Regions from separate parts of the Homo sapiens genome. Here regions 1, 2 and 3 are each linked to region 4. Evidence: fine-mapped expression QTL. A gene starts in region 4. Each other region holds a variant in brackets. All regions are shown on one strand. Distances are from middle to middle.

Region 1 (2,617 bases), 180 kb before region 4:
AATAACCTTAAAAGCACCAAGGAGCTAGAAAGATAGTAAGGAAAAGATAACCTTAAAAGCACCAAAAAGCAGCCGGGCGTGGTGGCTCATGCCTGTAATCCCAGCACTTTGGGAGGCCGAGGTGGGCAGATCACAAGGTCAGGAGCTCGAGACCAGCCTGGCCAACATGGTGAAACCCCGTCTCTACTAAAAATACAAAAATTAGCTGGGTGTGGTGGCATGCGCCTGTAATCCCAGCTACTCAAGGCAGGAGAATCGCTTCAACCCGAGAAGTGGAGGTTGCAATGAGCCGAGATTGCACCACTATACTCCAGCCTGGGTGACAGAGCAAGACTCCATCTCAAAAAAAAAAAAAAAAAAAAAAAAAAAAAGCACCAAAGAGCTAGAAAGATAGTAAGGAAAATGGGGCCGGGTGTGGCAGGTCACACCTGTAATGCCTTTGGGAGGCAGAGGTGGGCAAACTGCTTGAGCCCAGGAGTTCAAGACCAACATGGCGAAAACCCATCTCTACAAAAAATACAGAAATTAGCTAGGTGTGATGGCATGTGGCTGTAGTCCCAGCTACTCAGGAAGTTGAGGAGCGAAGGATCACTTGACCCCAGAAGGTTGAGGCTGCAGTGAACCAAGATCATGCCACTGTACTCCAGCTGGAGCAACAGAGTGAAACTTTGTCTCAGAAAAAAAAAAAAAGAAAGAAGATAGTAAGGAAAATCTAGGCCAATCATCTAAGGAAAAGTGCAAACCCAGAGAGGTAAGCAGAGCATCTGAACACAAAACCAAACACTATATATAATGAGAAAATGTATATGCATTCTCTTCAGCATCAGAATCAACTATTTAACACAGTATTCGGGGGCCTGACCAATACCACTCTAGTAGGAAAGAAAAAGATATAAGAAAATTAAAAATTAAAAAAGAAAAGTTAAAAATCTCATTACTTAGAATATGTTCTAAAAATCTCATTACTTGGAATATGTTCATCTACCTAGATAAATGAACAAAATCAACAAACAATTAAAACTAATAAGAGAGTTCTGCAAGGATGCTAGATACAAAATCAAATTACCAAAATATCAATAGCAATAGCTTAGAATCAATAATCTAGAAAATATTGTTTTGAAAAGTAAGACACCACTCAGAATAGCACCAAAAGATATATCTCATTAGGGAATTAACAAAGGACACCCTGTTAAATTTGTTTGCAGCTTTTCTTGATGCAAGAAGAAACAGAATTGAGAAGAGAGCTTGGAGATAGACATGTAAATATGTAAATTTGATTATATCAAAAAGGATTTCTGCTTACTGAAGGACACAATGGACAAATTTAACAGATAGATGACAGATTGAGAGGAGAGATTTGCAACTCTTTTTTTTTTTTTTTTTTTTTT[TC/C]GAGACAAGGTCTGGCTCTATTGCCCAGGGTGGAGTGTAGTGGTGCAATCTCGGCTCACGGCAACTTCCACCACCCGGGCTCAAGCCATCCTCCCACCTCTGCCTCCTGAGTAGCTGGGACTATAGGCGCTTACCACCACGCCCAGCTAATTTTTGTATTTTTTGTAGAGACAGGGTTTTGCCATGCTGCCCAGGCTGGTCTCAAACTCGTGAGCTCAAACGATCCACCCGTCTTGGCCTCCTGAAGTGCTGAGATTACAGGTATGAGCCTCTGCGCCTTTAACACTGACAAGACTCCTTCGACAAGAAAAAGAAAGGAACACTAGTAGTAGACACATGGGCAAAGAAAATGAATAGACATTTTACAGAGAAAGAAATCCAGAAGATTAATCACCACGTGAAAAATGAGATAGTGGCTGGGTGCGGTGGCTCACGCCTGTAATCCCGGCACTTTAGGAGGCTGAGGCGGGCGAATCACGAGGTCAAGAGATTGAGACCATCCTGGCCAACATAGTGAAACCGCATCTCTACTAAAAATACAAAAATTAGCTGGGCATGGTGGCACATGCCTGTAGTCCCAGCTACACAGGAGGCTGAGGCAGGAGAATCGCCTGAACCCGGGAGGCAGAGGTTGCAGTGAACCGAGATCGCACGACTGCACTCCAGCCTGGTGACAAAGCAAGACTCCATCTCAAAAAAAAAAAGAAAAAGAAAAAGAAAAATGAGATAGCACTTTACAGCCATTAAACTGGCAGCATTAGAAAGCCAGGTAATGGCAGGTGTTACAGGCCATGTTAGAATACAGGACCCCTATATCCTCACGTCTCAAATGCACTGCTGGTGGGAGTGAAATTGGTACCACCATTCTGGAAAGCAATTGGCAGCATTCACACCCACGAACACACACACACACACACACACACACACACACACACACCAGTAATTCCCTTCTTGGGCCTGTATCTCAGAGAACTTCTCACAAAGGCCCTTATGGAGACGTGTACAAGGACATTCACTGCAGTATTGTTTGAGGTCATGGGTGTTGGCAACAATCTAGATCCCCATAGCCGGGGGAATGAGTGTTTAGGTAAAATGTGGAGACCGGCACACCATGGCATAGTATGCAGCAGCAGGTAAACACCATAAAATCTCTTTAAAACAAAGTGCTGAATGGAATGAAAAATAGAATAAGATCTATTGCCTATACCACTTAGGCAAATTAAAATAT
Region 2 (2,617 bases), 360 kb before region 4:
ACTTCCCAAAGTAATTTATACATTCAATGCTATCCCCATCAAGCTACCACTGACTTTCTTCACAGAATTGGAAAAAACTGCTTTAAACTTCATATGGAACCAAAAAAGACCCCACATAGCTAAGAAAATCCTTAGCAAAAAGAATAAAGCTGGAGGCAACACGCTACCTGACTTCAAATTATGCTACAAGGCTACAGTAATCAAAACAGCATGGTACTGGTTCCAAAACAGATATATAGACCAATGGAACAGAACAGGGGCCTCAGAAATAACACCACACATCTACAACTATCTGATCTTTGACAAACCTGACAAAAACAAGCAATGGGGAAAGGATTCCCTATTTAATGAATGGTATTGGGAAAATAGGCTAGCCATATGCAGAAAATTGAAACTGGACCTCTTCCTTACACCTTATACAAAAATTAATTCAAGATGGATTAAAGACTTAAAAGTAAGACCTAAAACCATAAAAATCCTAGAAGAAAACCTAGTCAATACCATTCAGGTCATAGGCATGGGCAAAGACTTCACATCTACAACACCAAAGCAATGGCAACAAAAGCCAAAATAGACAAATGGGATCTAATTAAACTAAAGAGCTTCTGCACAGCAAAAGAAACTACCATTAGAGTGAACAGGAAACATACAGAATGGGAGAAAATTTTTGCAATCTACCCATCTGACAAAGGGCTAATATCCAGAATCTAAAAAGAACTTAAACAAATTTACAAGAAAAAAAACAAACGACCCCATCAAAAAGTGGGCGAAGGATATGAACAGACACTTCTCAAAAGAAGACATTTATGCAGCCAACCAACATAGGAAAAAATGCTCATCATCACCAGTCATCAGAGAAATGCAAATCAAAACCACAATGAGATACCATCTCACACCAGTTAGAATGGCAATCATTTAAAAAGTCAGGAAACAACAGATGCTGGAGAGGATGTGGAGAAATAAGAACACTTTTACACTGTTGGTGGGAGTGTAAATTAGTTCAGCCATTGTGGAAGACAGTGTGGCAATTCCTCAAGGATCTAGAACCAGAAATATTATTTCACCCAGAATCCTACTACTGGGTATATACCCAAAGGATTATAAATCATGCTACTATAAAGACACATCCACA[C/T]GTATGTTTACCGCGGCACTATTCACAATAGCAAATACTTGGAACCAACCCAAATGTCCACCAATGACAGACTGGATTAAGAAAATGTAGCACATATACACCATGGAATACTATGCAGCCATAAAAAAGGATGAGTTCATGTCCTTTGCAGAGACATGGATGAAGCTAGAAACCATCATTCTCAGCAAACTAACACAGGAACAGAAAACTAAACACTGCATGTTCTCACTCAGAAGTGGGAGTTGAACAATGAGAACACATGGACACAGGGAGGGGAACATCACATACCAGGGCCTGTCGTGGAGTGCAGGGCTAGGGGAGGAGTAGCATTAGGAGAAATACCTAATGTAGATGACAAGTTAATGGGTGCAGCAAACCACCATGGCACTTGTACACCTATGTAACAAAACTGCACATTCTGCACAGGTACCTCAGAACTTAAAGTATAATAAAAAAATTTTTTAATGAAAAATAAACTTCAATGAAATGTTTTTTTGTTTTTTTTTATTTTTGTATTATTATACTTTAAGTTTTAGGGTACATGTGCACAATGTGCAGGTTAGTTACATATGTATACATGTGCCATGCTGGTGTGCTGCACCCATTAACTCGTCATTTAGCATTAGGTATATCTCCTAATGCTATCCCTCCCCACTCCCCCCACCCCGCAACAGTCCCCAGAGTGTGATGTTCCCCTTCCTGTGTCCATGTGTTCTCATTGTTCAATTCCCACCTATGAGTGAGAACATGCGTTGTTTGGTTTTTTGTCCTTGCAATAGTTTACTGAGAATGATGATTTCCATTTTCATTCATGTCCCTACAAAGGACATGAACTCATCATTTTTTATGGCTGCATAGTATTCCATGGTGTATATGTGCCACATTTTAATTTGAAATGTTTAATAAGGGATATGACAATGATAGGGTTTGTGACAGTTGAGTTGAAAAGACTGTTAGTAAGAGCTAACAGTGGCAGCCAGGAGACCAGTTGTAAAATAATTTATTTCAATAACCATGGCTCAGATTTGTAAGATGACCCTAACATCTAAAATAGTGAAGGGATATTTTGGAAGATAGTAAAGGAACTCTAGAAGTTATCAAGTTCAACCTCCTATCAAATGAAGGAACTTCTGCATTTCTAACAAATAACTACCTTGTTCTGTTACAAAACCTTTAAGAATATGTTGCTCACTTCTTTAAAAAGAACCGTCTGCTAGTGTTTGACTCCTGTTAATATCACACAGTTAATCCATACATCGAATTTATCTCATTATCTGTGCCTTCTCAAGCTTGAAAGTTTTTTCTGTCTTTCTTCCCCCCAGGAGCTAGATGACACTCAACAGTATTCCACTGCACTTAGAATAAAATCTAAGTTTTCTTATCATAAATCTTGCCAGCTCTGAGATCTGGCTGCTGTATCCCTTTCTCACCTCATCTATTACCTTCTTCCATTTTCTGCTAGTCTTCAAGACATCAAGCTGGTTC
Region 3 (2,617 bases), 320 kb before region 4:
TTTACTGGAAGTATATTTACCTGCCAGCCCCTTTATCTCAATTCTGATGATTTAATAACCCATTGCTTGTAGCTCTTAGACTGCTTAGAAATGTCAGGCCACTGCACTCAAGTCCAGGAAACACATGGAAAGCTCTTGCCTACAGTGCCCTTGCAGCCTCACTAAGGTAAGGTAAAGAAGGTTAGATATTCATTCAGAGTTAGAGATTCTCTGTTTCTGTAGTTCAAGCTGACCTTGGTGGTTGATATGGTAAGAAGGGTAAAAAGATATTGTTGACCTTTTCTCTATGTAAATGTGTTATGATTCCTCTCCACTTGTATAATCTGTGGGCCAGATTATACAAGTAAGTATTACCCCCATTCTCCAGGGATTACTAAGACTAAGGTAAAGAAGGTCTCTGAACGGGAGCAGAGAAGTTTGACTCACACAATGCTGAACTGCTGCAAAGAAACTATTCCCCTAATTTCCATCATCTAACCCTACCCATGTCCAATCATTTATATCATCCAGTTGACTGATGAATTCAGATTTCACATTACTTTTTCTACATGGGTAGGTTTTTAACTTTCATTGATAATATGTATGTTTGCTATCTCTTTTCTTCAGGACCCAGTAAAAATTATGACAATGAAGAGCCCATTTTAACATCATGTTCCACAATTATTTTATGTTATTTTAAGACCATTGTCTGAAAAGGAAATAGTCTATAAAACAGAATGATCCCTTTTTTAAAAGGAAAAACACCATTTGCCAATTGGGTCAATATTATAATCATTTGTAGGACTTACCTTCAAAATCTCAGAAAATGTTTCCTAGGCTTTAAATCTTATTGAATATGTCTTTGTCCTTTTTATTCACTTCAGATTCGCAATCACTGTACCCTTTTATGGCCTGATACTCAACTTGCAGCACTTAGGGAGCAATGTCTCCCTGTTCCAGATTCTCTGTGGAGCTGTCACATTCACAGCCAGATGTGTTTCCCTTTTGACACTGAATCATATGGGTCGTCGAATAAGC[C/T]AGATATTGTTCACGTTCCCGGTGGGACTTTTCATTCTGGTCAACACCTTTTTGCCCCAAGGTGAGAGAGACAGGAGTTTCAGGAAAGAAAGTAGTTACCCCCATTCTCCAGGGATTACATTGGTCTTTTATGCCTGGTGCCAAAAGAACAGCATTGCCCTTGACAGCCAAAAGATTCCCTGAAGTTAATATGAGGGTTTGGAACTGATTCTGACAATATGTTGTTTTCAGCACTTGGGCTCTTACTCAATCAATGTCAGCCGTGATGGTTCAGACACACGGTTGTCTTCATCACAGCCAAGATGAATCTGGACATGGGCTCCAATTACACCTAATGGTTTCTTTAGAAAAGTAACTAAGCACATGCTTTTTGGCTAATCACCCTTTTATAGCTATTGTGGAGGGGCTAGGCCTTGCAACTGTATGCCAAAGTGGGCACACAATGCCCTCACTGCCTCTGTCTAGGACACTTTCTAATTTTTGAGGTCTCTCTAACTTGTCCATATCCTCTTCCCTGTATATTCACTTTTGAGTTCCCTATTATCTCATATAAATGCAACACTTTTTTAGAAAAGGCTTCTTGACTTTGCTGAAATAAAAATTCCTTGTCTTCAACCATAAATGAAGTGTACAGTTGGAACAAGAAAAAGTCTCATCTTAATATCTCTTTATCTGTTTTATAATCTACCCCTAAACAAGGAACAGATTAAGAAGCTGACCCAGCCTCTCTTAAAATCCACTTTCCTAAGTTAAATTAATAGAATGACCTTCTGTAATGATTATGGGAACATTAGTGGTCACTATATTCCACTCATCTCCCAGAGCAGGAACATATTTTGCAGGATTCCCAGACTGGTGGGCTCCATGCCTCCTGCTGGTGTAAGTTTTCTGCCTTATAGGAGAGCCTTCTCCACTGTTTTAAAATCCTATTTTGATATTTTTATTGATGAAAAAGTACCTTTTTGAATTTTCAGTGTCAATGGTTCCCAGTGTGATATTATTTATTTCCAAATAGGAGTTAGGTTTTATAATGTTAGGTTTTACAATCCTGAATTATTCAGAGCTTATGTCTCTCCACACTGTCCACTCCCAAATAAACCCAGTCCTTTTCTTACTATATGGTAGAATATCTGTCCCATATCTAAAATTGTTCCCACATTCTTAGCTCTAAACTGCTCAAGACATGGCTCACAAACTCCTCAGTTATTATCTATATATAGTTCTATGCCCCACTGGAGGTGCACAGAAAATATTACATAGAAAAAATTAAAATGAATATTGTTCTAATAGAACAAATATAGTTCTGTGCCCCCACTGGAAGTACACAGAAAATATTACACAGAATAAATAAAACAAATATTTCCTGTTGGTCCCTACCCCCACCTTAATTGGCAATACTCAAATGTGCAGAAAGAGTTGAAGATTGAGATTGAGATCCTTTATTCAATGTTTAAGCCCTACCATTTTACAGTCTATATTTCTCAGCCTCGCAACCATTCCCCAATCTCTGGCATGTTGCAGTTTGTCTACCACATATTTCACACTTGCAAATTCCTCCATTAGAATCTTTTTACAATTATTTGGGGGTTGAAAAGTTTCT
Region 4 (2,617 bases):
ATGCCTGAGAATCATCTTCTTAAAATGCAGATTCTCAGGTCTGCCCCAGACAGTCTTGATTCTGTAGGGAATAAGGAGGCTCAGGAATCTGCATGTTCCTGCAGGTTTTTCTGATGCTGGAGGCCCAAGTACTCCACTGCCCTGAGCTGGGTCCCAGCTCATTAATATCAGAGAGGCCCCTCTGTGCAAAGCCCAGAGATGGTCAAATCCCAGGCTACTTCCTTCCTCCCCCAAACTCTCGATCTGCTTTTTCTGGTCATTCATTCAGAAGATATATAGAGGCCCATGGTGTGTGGTCCCTGGGCACAGGGGATAAGAGAAAACCAGCAGAATGACAGAGGGAGAGCAGACACAGGAACAATGATTACACTGTGAGCTCCACAGGGGCTGTCCTCATTCTATCTTGTTCCCATTCTACCTTGTTCTGAGCCCAACACGGGTCCTGGCACACACCAAGGGTTTTTAAAATGTTTGAGGAGTCAATGAATGACCCATCTCAGCTGAGAGAAGGAAGTCTTATTGTCCAGCATTGCAGAGGGCGCCCTGGGAACCCAAAGCAGGAAGCAACTGGCTGCCTGAGAGAGGAGAGGGGTCCCCAGAGTGGGTGGCAGGACGAGTAGGAGTTGGGGAGGGGTTGCAGGTATAGCGCCCCGTGTGCGCATCGAACGATCTGGCGGTGCGGTGAGCTCGACACTCACTTCCCTGTGCAGGTCCCCTCCACCTCGGTGAAGAGCTTCTGCTTCACCGTGTTGAGCAAGTTGGGGCCGAAGTAGCGCGGGTGCAGCAGGATTTCGTGCTCTAGGGAGATCTGCGGAGAAAAGTGGGATGGCGACCAGGCCAGGCGCTGGCAGGTTATTGGACGACAAGGGGAGTCTCGCGCCGGCGCCTGGCCTTGCTCTTCCTTTCCACCCAGCCCTTGCCGCCACCCTGAGCCCTGCTCACATGGTAGAACATCTTCCCAGACCAGGTAGGCAGGCAGAGTCCACACCTCCGACAGTCCCTGGGAATCCACCGGAAACACTTAGACGCCGCAACCCCAGTTCCGCGCTTGCTGCGACTAGGAGGGCGGAACACCACCTCCTCCGCGAGGGCGGAACTCCACCAGCTCCGCGGGTCTGATTGGGCCTCGCCGTCGTGGGCGAGAACCACTAAGCCCCGCCCCTCACCCCCGCCCCCCAGCCATCAAACGACAACTTTTTTTTTTGAGGCGGAGTCTCCCTCTGTTGCCCAGGCTGGAGTGCAGTGGCGCGATCTCGGCTCACTGCAACCTCCGCCTCCCGGGTTCAAGCGATTCTCCTGCCTCATCCTCCCGAGTAGCTGGGATTAAAGGCATGTGCCACCACACCTGACTAATTTTGTATTTTTAGTAGAGATGGGGTTTCTCCATGTTGGTCAGGCTGGTCTCAAACTCCCAACCTCAGGTGATCCACCCACCTCGGCCTCCCAAAGTGTTGGGATTACAGGAGTGAGCCACCGCGCCCGGTCGGCAACTATCTGAATTGCTTGAACCTGGGAGGCGGCCCGAGATCTTGCCACTGAACTCCAGCCTGGGCAACAAGAGCGAAACTCCATCTCAACAGATAGATAGATAGATAGATAGATAGATAGATAGATAGATAGATAGATAGATAATAGATAGATAGATAGATAGATAGATAGATTGATAAATGCTACCACTTACTGCTTTCTTCCTAGATGCCTGGGCAACAAGAGCGAAACTCCATCTCAATAAATAAAATAAATAAATAAATAAATGCTATCACTTACTACTTTCTTCCTAGATGCCAGACACTGTGCTAAGCGCTTGATATAATTCTCTCCCTTAATTCTCATAATAATCTACAGAAATTGGTGTAGAAATAAAAAAAAAATGTTTACGAGCCTTAGCCAAAAGGCCAAGAAGCTACAGAAAATAATGAAATTTAGGCCGGGCGCTGTGGTTTACGCCTGTAATACCAGCACTTTGAGAGGCCGAGGCGGGCAGATCATGAGGTCAGGAGATTGAGACCATCCTGGCTAACATGGCGAAACCCCGTCTCTACTAAAAATACAAAAAATTGGCCGGGCGTGGTGGCAGGCGTCTGTAGTCCCAGCTACTCAGGAGGCTGAGGCAGGAGAATCGCTTGAACCCGGGAGGCGGAGGGTGCAGTGAGTTGAGATCGCGCCACTGCACTCCAGCCTGGCGACAAAGCAAGACGGAGTCTCAAAAAAAAAAAAAAATTTAAGAGCTATTGGAAGCCCAAAAAACACTTTAAGCCTCGAGAGAGATATGACTGCGAGTCACATATAGTTTACAACTTCTGTTCTCAGATTATAGATTAACTCTTTTTTTTTTTTTTTTTTTTTTTGAGACGGAGTCTTGCTGTGTCGCCCAGGCTGAAGTGTAGGAAATCCATGACTATTTCATCCTCTGTTAAAAAATGTTACATGCGCCGGGCACTGGTGGCTCATGCCTGTAATCCCGGCTACTCGGCTACTGGGGAGGCTGGGGCAGGACAATTGCTTGAACCCGGGAAGCTGAGATTGCAAAGAGCCGAGATCGCTCCACTGCACTTCAGCCTGGGATGCAGAGCAAGACTCCCTCTCTCTTTTTTTTTTTTTAATAGAGACGGGGTTT

Direction of the effects. Alleles are on the strand shown, and positions count from the first base shown. SD is a standard deviation of normalised expression in the study named. Not every link is listed here.
With allele C in place of T in region 2, the expression in fibroblasts of the gene that starts at base 1,023 in region 4 is higher (large effect, 0.90 SD a copy in GTEx).
For the expression in thyroid of the gene that starts at base 1,023 in region 4, allele T in region 3 goes with a higher level than allele C (moderate effect, 0.62 SD a copy in GTEx).

Evidence for each region. PIP is the estimated chance that this variant, and not a neighbour inherited with it, causes the effect.
Region 1: its variant is fine-mapped to the expression of POLR2G in whole blood (INTERVAL, PIP above 0.99).
Region 2: its variant is fine-mapped to the expression of POLR2G in fibroblasts (GTEx, PIP above 0.99).
Region 3: its variant is fine-mapped to the expression of POLR2G in thyroid (GTEx, PIP above 0.99).

Annotation. Positions count from the first base shown.
Region 1 is chr11:62,939,771-62,942,387 of GRCh38, reverse strand. All of the region lies in intron 4 of LOC105369333 (a long non-coding RNA gene), which reads right to left. Among named protein-coding and RNA genes, the nearest start is that of CHRM1, 20 kb to the right of the region's middle. The variant TC/C (reference allele first, on the strand shown) is at 1,389.
Region 2 is chr11:63,124,136-63,126,752 of GRCh38, reverse strand. All of the region lies in intron 2 of SLC22A24 (solute carrier family 22 member 24), which reads left to right. Among named protein-coding and RNA genes, the nearest start is that of SLC22A24, 19 kb to the left of the region's middle. The variant C/T (reference allele first, on the strand shown) is at 1,133.
Region 3 is chr11:63,081,704-63,084,320 of GRCh38, reverse strand. SLC22A24 (solute carrier family 22 member 24) reads left to right here. Exons shown (of 10, transcript NM_001136506.2): 7 at 864-1,078. Among named protein-coding and RNA genes, the nearest start is that of SLC22A24, 61 kb to the left of the region's middle. The variant C/T (reference allele first, on the strand shown) is at 1,018.
Region 4 is chr11:62,759,986-62,762,602 of GRCh38, reverse strand. POLR2G (RNA polymerase II subunit G) reads right to left here and starts at 1,023. Exons shown (of 8, transcript NM_002696.3): 1 at 943-1,023; 2 at 699-808. The coding sequence starts at 954. RefSeq lists an enhancer at 815-1,014.